Homo sapiens: one gene and its partner. The protein of the gene in region 2 purifies or fractionates together with the protein of the main gene of each other region. This does not show direct contact. Each region holds a gene or a part of one and is shown on either strand. Other genes may lie near its edges.

The links.
Region 1: the proteins of MARK4 (region 2) and RPIA purify together in Homo sapiens (affinity purification with mass spectrometry; one large-scale study listed by BioGRID and IntAct). This does not show direct contact.

The regions. Positions count from the first base shown.
Region 1 is NC_000002.12:88,743,673-88,747,172, forward strand, and holds part of RPIA (ribose-5-phosphate isomerase), read left to right. Parts: intron 1-3,500. UniProt on the Homo sapiens protein: Catalyzes the reversible conversion of ribose-5-phosphate to ribulose 5-phosphate and participates in the first step of the non-oxidative branch of the pentose phosphate pathway.
Region 2 is NC_000019.10:45,295,471-45,300,794, reverse strand, and holds part of MARK4 (MAP/microtubule affinity-regulating kinase 4), read right to left. Parts: intron 3,120-5,324; coding exon 2,841-3,119; intron 2,653-2,840; coding exon of another isoform or gene 2,573-2,652; intron 985-2,572; coding exon 940-984; intron 1-939. UniProt on the Homo sapiens protein: Serine/threonine-protein kinase. Phosphorylates the microtubule-associated protein MAPT/TAU. Also phosphorylates the microtubule-associated proteins MAP2 and MAP4.

The DNA of each region.
Region 1 (3,500 bases), on a different chromosome or scaffold from region 2:
TTTGTTGGCAGTTTTTTTAATTACTGTTTCAGTGTCGCTGCTTGTTATTGATTTGTTCATAGTTTCTGTTTCTTCCTGCTTTAATCTAAGAGGCTTGTATATTTCCAGATTTTCTAGTTCATGCACATACAGGTGTTCATAGTAGCCTTGAATGATCTTTTGTATTTCTGTGGTATTGGTTGCAGTATCTCCCATTTCATTTGTAATTGAGCTTATTTGGATCTTCTCTCTTCTTTTCTTGGTTAATCTCACTAATGGTCTATCGATTTTATCTTTTCAAAGAACCAGGTTTTTGTTTCATTTATCTTTTTTGTATTTTTTGTTTCAATTTCATTTAGTTCTGCTCTTATCTTAGTTATTTCTTTTCTTCTGTTGGGTTTGAGTGTGGTTTGTTCTTGTTTCTCTAGTTCCTTGAAGTGTAACCTCAGATTATCTGTACTCTTTCAGAGTTTTTGGTTTAGGCATTTAAGGCTATGAGCTTTCCTCTTAGCACTGCTTTTGCTGTATCCCAGAGGTTTTGATAGGTTGTATCACTATTATTATTCAGTTCAAATAATTTTTAAATTTCCATCTTGATTTCATTGTTGACCCAGAGATCATTCAGGAGCAGATTATTTAATTTCCATGTATTTGTATAGTTTTGAGGGTTCCTTTTGGAGTTGATTTCCAATTTTATTCCACTGTGATCTGTGAGAGTACTTGATATAATTTAGATTTTTTAAAATTTATTGAGACTTGTTTTGTAGCCTGTCATGTTGGAGAATGTTCCAGGCTGAAGAAAAGAATATATATTCTGTACTTCTTAGGCGGAAAGTTCTATAGATATCTGTTAAGTCCATTTGCTCCAGAGTATAGTTTAATTTCATTGTTTCTTTGTTGACTTTCTGTCTTGATGACCTGTCTAGTGCTGTCAGTGGAGTACTTAAGTCTCCCACTATTATTGTATTGCCATCTATCTCATTTCTTAGGTCTAGTAGTAACAGTTTTATAAATTTGCGAGCTTTAGTATTAGGTGCATATATATTTAGAATTGTGATATTTTCCTGTTGGACTAATCCTTGTATCATTATATAATGTTCCTCTTTGTCTTTTCTAACTTGTTGCTTTAAAGTCTATTTTGTCTCATAGAAGAATAGCTACTCCTGCTTGCTTTTGGTTTCTGTTTGTGTGGAGTATCTTTTCCCACCCCTTTACAGTAAGTTTATGTGAATCCTTATGTGTTAGGTGAGTCTCTTGAAGACAACAGATACATGGTTGGTGGATTTTTATGCATTCTGCCATTGTGTATCTTTTTATTTTTTTGAGACAGAGTTTCACTCTTGTTGCCCAGGCTGGAGTGCAATGGCATGTTCTTGGCTCACTGCAACCTTCACCTCTCAGGTTCAGGCAATTCTCCTGCCTCACCCTCCTGAGTAGCTGGGATTACAGGTGCCCGCCACCATGACTGGCTAATTTTTTTGTGGTTTTAGTAGAGACGGGGTTTCACCATATTGGCCAGGCTGGTCTCAAACTCCTGACCTCAGGTGATCTGCCTGCCTTGGCCGCCCACCAAGCCTGGCCCATTGTGTACCTTTTAAGTAGAGCATTTAGGCAGTTTACATTCAGCGTTAATATTGAGATATGAGGTATTATTTTATTCATCATGGTAGTTGTCTCCTGGATACCTTGTTTTTTTGCACTGTGATATTGTTTCATAGGTCCTGTGAAATTTATGCTTTAAGGAGGTTCTATTTAGGTGTATTGTGAGTTTTGTATCAAGATTTAGAACTCATTTTAGCATTTCTTGTAGGACTGGCTTGGTAGTGGCGAATTCTCTCAGCATTTGTTTGTCTGAAAATGACTGTATCTCTTCCTTATTTATGAAGCTTAGTTTTGCTGGATACAAAATTCTTGGCTGATAATTAATTTGTTTAAGGAGGCTAAAGATAAGACCCCAATCCCTTCTGGCTTGTAGGGCTTCTGCTGAGAAATCTGCTGTTAATTTGATAGGCTTTCTTTTATAGGTTACCTAATGCTTTTGCCTGGCAGCTTTCAAGATTCTTTCCTTTGTCTTACTTTAGATGACCTGATGACTATATGCCTAGGTGGTGATCTTTTTGCAATGAATTTCCTGAGTGTTCTTCAAGCATTTTTATTTGGATGTCTAGATTTCCAGCAATACCAGGAAAGTTTTCCTCAATTATTCCCTCAAGTAAGCTTTCCAAACTTTTTGATTTCTCTCCTCTCCTTCCTCAGGAACATCAGTTATTCTTATGTTTGATTGTTTAACATAATCCCAAATTTCTTGGAGGCTTTGTTCATTTTTTTGATTCTTTTTTTCTTTGTCTTTCTTGGATTAGGTTAATTTGAAAGCCTTGTCTTCGAGCTCTGAAGTTCTTTTTTTCTACTCGTTCTAATCTGTTGTTGAAATTTCCCAGTGTATTTTGCATTTCTAAAATGTGTCTTTCATTTCCAGAAGTTTGATTATCTTTTCTTTATGATATCTGTTTCTCTGGAGTCCTTTTAAATTTTCTTTAAGTTGGTTTTCACCTTTCTCTGGTACCTCCTTGAGTAGCTTAATAATCAACCTTCTGAATTCTTTATCTGGCAATTCAGAGATTTCTTCTTGGTTTGGCTCCGTTACTGGAGAGCTAGTGTGATCTTTGGGAGGTGCTGTAGAACCTCGTTTTGTCGTATTACCAGAATTTGTTTTCTAGTTCCTTCTCATTTGAGTAGACTGTTTCATTGGAAAGATCTGGAACCCAAGGGCTGCTGTTCAGATTCTTTTGTCCAATGGGGTGATCCCTTGATGGGGTGTTCTTCGCCTTCCCCTAAGGATGAGGATTCTTGAGAGCTGGACTGCAGTGGTTATGCCCTTCTGGGGTTAGCCACCCAGTGCGGCTACTGGGCTCCAGGCTGGTATTGGGGAATGTCTGCAGAAAGTCCTGTGATGTGATCTGTCTTTAGGTCCCCGAGCTGTGGATACCAGCACCTGCTTCGGTGGAGGTGGCAGGAGAGTGAAGTGGACTCTGTGGGAGTCCCTGGTTGTATTTTTGTTTAGTGCACTGGTTTTCTTGAATGCTGGTTTATGCTAGCAGTGAAGTTGCCATGTGGACAGACTCAGGATCTCTGGTTAGCCAGGATGTTGCAGGCGGTGGAATTAGCTGTTGTTTTTCCCTTTTTGGAGCAGGGTTGTTCTGTTACGAGTTTCTGTAGTGGCTTGAGTTGGTTGGCCTTCAGCGAGGAGGTGGTGCTTTCAAGAAAGCATCAGCTGTAGTAGTATAGGGGGGATACAAGCTTGTCTATGTAGGCCAGGATAAGTATTTTGGTTTCTTAGGTAATGGGCAGGGCCATAGAGCTCCCAAGAGTTTATGTCTTTTGTCTTTGGCTACCAGGGCAGGTAGAGAAAAACCATCAGGTTAGGGCAGAGTTAGGTGGGTCTGAGTCAGACTTTCCTTGGGCAGGGCTTGCTGTGGCCACTGTGTGGGGTTGGGGAGTGGTTCTCAGGTCAATGGAGTTAT
Region 2 (5,324 bases):
TGGTTTAGGAATGAGCATGTGACCAAGTCCCAACCAATGAGAGTCAGCCCTGGCAGTTTGTTGCAGCTGCTGGGAAGGCTCCGGTTTCCACTTGGGTCTCTAAACCGGGAACTCAGACAAAACCAGGGCTTGGCAAACTCCAGTGCTGTCTGCTTTTGTAAATAAAGTTTCATTGGAACACTGCCATACCCATTTGTTTTGTGTTGAATATGACTGCTTTTGCACTACAATGGCACAACTGAACAGGCGTGACACAGGGTGCCTGGCCCTCAAAGCCTAAAATCTTCATGATCTGGGTCCGTACAGATGTTTGCCTCCTGCTGGCCCTGAGCTGCCAGCAAACATTGTGCCATGACTGGATGAGAGGCAAAAGGAGGTGGGGGCATTGACCAGAAGAGGAGTTGAGTTGTGGATGGGATGAGGCTTTTTTTTTTTTTTTTTTTTTTTTTTCAGACGGAGTTTCACTCTTGCTACCCAGGCTGGAGTGCGATGGCACAATCCAGCTCACCGCAACCTCTGCCTCCCGGGTTCAAGCGATTCTCCTGCCTCAGCCTCCCGAGTAGTTGGGATTACAGGCATGCGCCACTACGCCCGGCTAATTTTTGTATTTTTAGTAACGACGGGGTTTCTCCATCTTAGGCTGGTCTCAAACTCCCGACCTCAGGTGATCTGCCTCCCTTGGACTCCCAAAGTGCTGGGATTACAGGCTTGGGCCATGGCACCCAGCCGGAGGCTGAAGTTTAAGATGATCAAGGGAAGGTGCTTGGGGTTGGGTGGGAATGAGAGGAGCTGGCAGAGAAGGCTGGGGCCACAGGGCATTTCAGGAAGTTGGCCTTGCAGGATGAGACTGGGGCCCCATCTAATGCCCTGGGGTAAGTGTCGGGAGGTGCTGAGGCAGGAGAGGGGAAGTGGCAGTCAGGGGTAGGCCCAAGCACTCACCTTGTGACCTCAGGTCCCCCGATTCTCTCAGGTTCGTCTGCGACCCTAGGGGAGGGGAGGGGGACAGAGTGTCTAATCTGGACATAGGGAACCCACCTCCCGCAACCCACTGCCTCTGGGACTCCAAGCAGCCCCTGCCTCAACCCCAGTCCCTCCGGGCTGGTGAGGGCCTGGAGTCAGGATTTGATCTCCTTGTCCATCCCCATAACGGGGCTCATTCTGAAATGGTTAGTGCAGGTCACAGGAAAGATACTGAAGAATGTGGAAGATGAAAGGGAGGGGAGTGGGCAGAGACACACCCTTACATAGATAAGTGGCCACAGAGAGAAAGAGAGAGACACACGCACGTGTGCACACACACACACTCCCTCGCTCACATATACATTCATGCTTTGCTCAAACAACACCTCCTTCGTGAGGCCTGCCCTTTTTTCTTTTTTTGAGACAGAGTCTCACTCTGTCATGCAGGAGTGGCGTGATCTCAGCTCGCTGCAGCCTCAACCTCCCAGGCTCAAGCAATCTTCCTGCCTTGGCCCCTGAAGTAGCTGGGACTACAGGCGCGTGCCACATCTGCTTTTTGTTTTTTGTTTTGTTTTGTAGAGATGGGGCTTTGCCACATTGCCCAGGCTGGTCTCAAACTCCTGGACTCAAGTCATCTGTCCAAAGTGCTGGGATTGCTGGCCTGAGCCACCTCATCCAGAGGCCTGCCCATTTAATGCTGCACCCCATCCCTTCCCCACACCCCTTATTCCCCTCCCTGTTCAATTTTTTTTTTTTTTTTTTTTTTTTTTAGAGACAGGTTCTCCCTCTGTTGCCAAGACTGATGATCATAGCTCACAGCAGCCTTGACCTCCTGCGTTCAAGTGATCCTCCTGCCTCGGCCTCCCAATTCCATGGGAATACAGGTGCAGTCACCACGCCCGGCCAATTTATTTACTTTTTTGTAGAGATAGGATCTTGCTACGTTGTCCAGGCTGGTCTTGAACTTCTGGGCTCAAGTGATCCCCTCGCCTCAGCCTCCCAAAGTGCTGTGATTACAAGCATAAGCCACCAAATTTGGCTCCTACTCTATTTTTCTTCTTAGTTACTTCGCACTACCTAGCAGTCTATATAGTAAGTATATTTTACTTATTTCTTTGTTTTTTGTCTAGATCCCTTAGTAGAATGTTGGGTCTGCCAGGGCAGGAGTTTTGTACATTTTGCTCACCCTCTACTACAGGGCCTAGGACAGTGCCAGGCACACAGTAGGGGCTCAATGAATAATAGCAATTAATAACTAATACACATGTAAAGCACTTTCCAAGGCAATGTTCTACGCTCAGTCCATACGTCACTTCATTTAGTCCTCACAATAACCCTAGGAGACAGGTATTGTTATTACTATACCCATTTTACAGAAGAGGAAAACCAGGCCCAGAGACCTTGAGTGACTTGCTCAAGGTCACTTGGCAGAGCTGCCATTTGAACCCCCGAGTCTGGCTCCATAGGCTGTGCTTCTGTGAGTAAATGAACAACCAGACCCCACGCACAGACCCTCACATCCACAGAGCCCCCTCCCAATGCCCGCACACACAGGTCAGACATGCAGGCAGGGAGGCAGAGCCAGCGAGAACAGGGCATGGACGGGACTTACTGATCTTGGATCCCTGGGGCAGAGAGGCGCCCGAAACACAGCGGTTAGAGTTCTGCCGTTTAGAGGGATCGAGGGTAACCCTGCAGTGTGAGGAGGGAGGTGAGGGGTGACAGGGGAGGAGGAAAGGAGGAGGAGGAGGAGGAAACGAGGAGGAGGAGGAGGAGGAAGAGGAAATGTTGGGGTACAGGAGACAGAGCAGAGTGGAAGACAGGTTAGGTCCCATCGGCCCCCCGCCCCGCCCTGCCCCTGCCATCCCCGCGGAGCTCACCTTCGGGTCAGTTTGGAGGTCAGCTTGGTGAAGAGGTTGGTGGTGGGGCGGGGCCGCCCGGCGGGCAGGGGTGCAGCCTCATGGGCCAGTGTGGGAGAGGCAGGGGGCCCATTCTGCACACCCCCACCACCCCCACCCCCTGCCCGCCGGTCCCGGACCTGGCCACCATGGAAGGTGCTGCGGATGGTGGAACCACGTGCCAGGCGGCTCCGCTCCCCTGATGGGGGTGCCAGGCTGTGACTGGAGGGGGAGGCAGGGGGCACCCGTGGGGTGCCTGAGCTGTGGGCAGAGACAGACAAGTCAGGGTGGGGGACTGAGGCAGGCCAGGGCCCCAGTCCCTTTGATTCTTCACATTCCTGTCCTGAGACCAGGGACTGCAACCAGCCTGGAACTCAGAGACAGGGCTGCAACGTACAGTTGTGCAGGCTGTGCACTATACAATCCTAGCATTATTTTACTGACTCTCTCCTCTCCTATTACCCCTCCTTCAAACTGTCCCTTCTTCAAACTCTACCCGCTCCAAATCATCTCCTATCACAACTCTCCTCTCTCTAAACGCAGCAACTGAATAGATGCACAGACATTTTTGGGTGACTTCCTTGCTATTTGCCGAAACCTCAGGAACCAAATCAACTTGGCAAACACTTTGCTATCTGAACTCTCACCATCTAAAATCAGGAAAGGGATAGATGTAAAGGTCAAGGATACCTGTATTCACTATGGTAATCTGGGCAGTGGGGGTTCCACTGTCCCAGGACCCTCCTCCAGCCCCTCGGACCCTCCTAGTCGACAGCAGGGGCCAGACCTCCATCTCCTGAGTTCAATTCTCCTGCCTCACCCTCCTGAGTAGCTGGGATTACAAGCGTGTGCCACCATGCCTGGCTAATTTTTTTTTTTTTTTTTTTTGAGACAGAGTCTCACTCTGTCACCTAGGCTGAAGGGCCATGGGGCAATCTTGGCTACTGCAACCTCTGCCTCCTGGGTTCAAGTGATTCTCCTGCCTCAGCCTCCTGAGTAGCTGGGACTATAGGCATGCAGCACCACGCCTGGGTAGTTTATGTATTTTCAGGAGAGATGGGGTTTCACCATGTTGGCCAGGCTGGTCTCAAACTCCTCACCTCAGGTGATCCACTGGCCTTGGCCTCCCAAAGTGCTGGGATTCCAGGTGTGAGCCACTGCGCCCAGCCCAGACCTCCAATTTCTATCCTCCCAGGGACTCCAGGCCCAGCCTGGATCTCAGAGAAGAATCCTGATTGTGGCAGAGGCTGTTACTTCTCCCTTAGAATCCATCCTCCCTGTTTCGTTCTTGGTAACCAAACCCCTAAGAGTATGAGCACTGCACATGGCCACCCAGCCAGAGACTACATTTCCCAGACTCTCTTGCAGCTAGAGATGGTTATGTGACCATGCTCCGGCCAATGGGATATAAGCAGAAGTGCTCTGTACCATCTCTGGGTGACGCCTTTACAAAGAGTTGTTGCTTGTCCCCTACTCTTTCCCCACTTCTTCCTGATTGGGAAATGATGGCTGCTGGTGCAGCGGCCTCAGTCCCAGAGCTGGAAACTCATTTTGGGGCTGGAAGAACTTACCTGGGTCCTTGGAGGACCCTCCGGACTAAACGTCCTTTTTATTTAAATTACTCTACCCTGGGATCTCTTTGTTTTTATTACAGCAGCTAGCTGAGTCTATACTTTTTATTTTTTGTTGTTTTTAAATTTTTTTTTAATTTTTGATTTTTTTTGTCTGAGTCTGTAATTTAACTGTTCCACTATCTCTTGAGCAGAACTGGAAGGCCATGTACTACAGTGATTACAAATAAGATTCTGGAGTCAAGTCTGGAATCTGCTTCTTGACTTACCAGCTGTGTGGCCTTGGATAAGTTACTTAACCTCTCTGTGCCTTATGTCCTCAGCTGTAAAATGGAGATATTAGGATCTACCTCACAGAGTTGTTAGGGGCACTGAGCCAGGCAATAGACATAGAAGCCTGGCATGTAGCTGCTGCTTCATGAATGTTCACTATTGTTATTTGATAACCACCAAAAAAAAGCACTCTCAAGTCACTGAATGAAGGCCTCCTAAGCATCAGACCCAGTGCCAGGTACAGGACACACCTGATCTCTACTGCATCTCTATAATGGGGCCTGGAAGTGGACAGCATCAGCCCTTTTTTTTATGAGACGGATTCTTGCTGTGTGGCTCAGGCTGGAGTACAGTGGCGCAATCCCAGCTCACTGCAACCTCTGCCTCCCAGGTTCAAGCGATTCTCCTGCCTCATTCAGCCTTCTGAGTAGCTGGGATTACATGCACATGACATCGTTCCTGGCTAATTTTTGTATTTTTAGTAGAGACAGGGTTTCATCATGTTGGCCAGGCTGGTCTCGAACTCCTGACCTCAGGTGATCTGCCCACCTCGGCCTCACAAAGTGCTGGGATTACAGGTGTGAGCCACCATGCCCGGCCAGCATCAAGCCCATTTTACCGA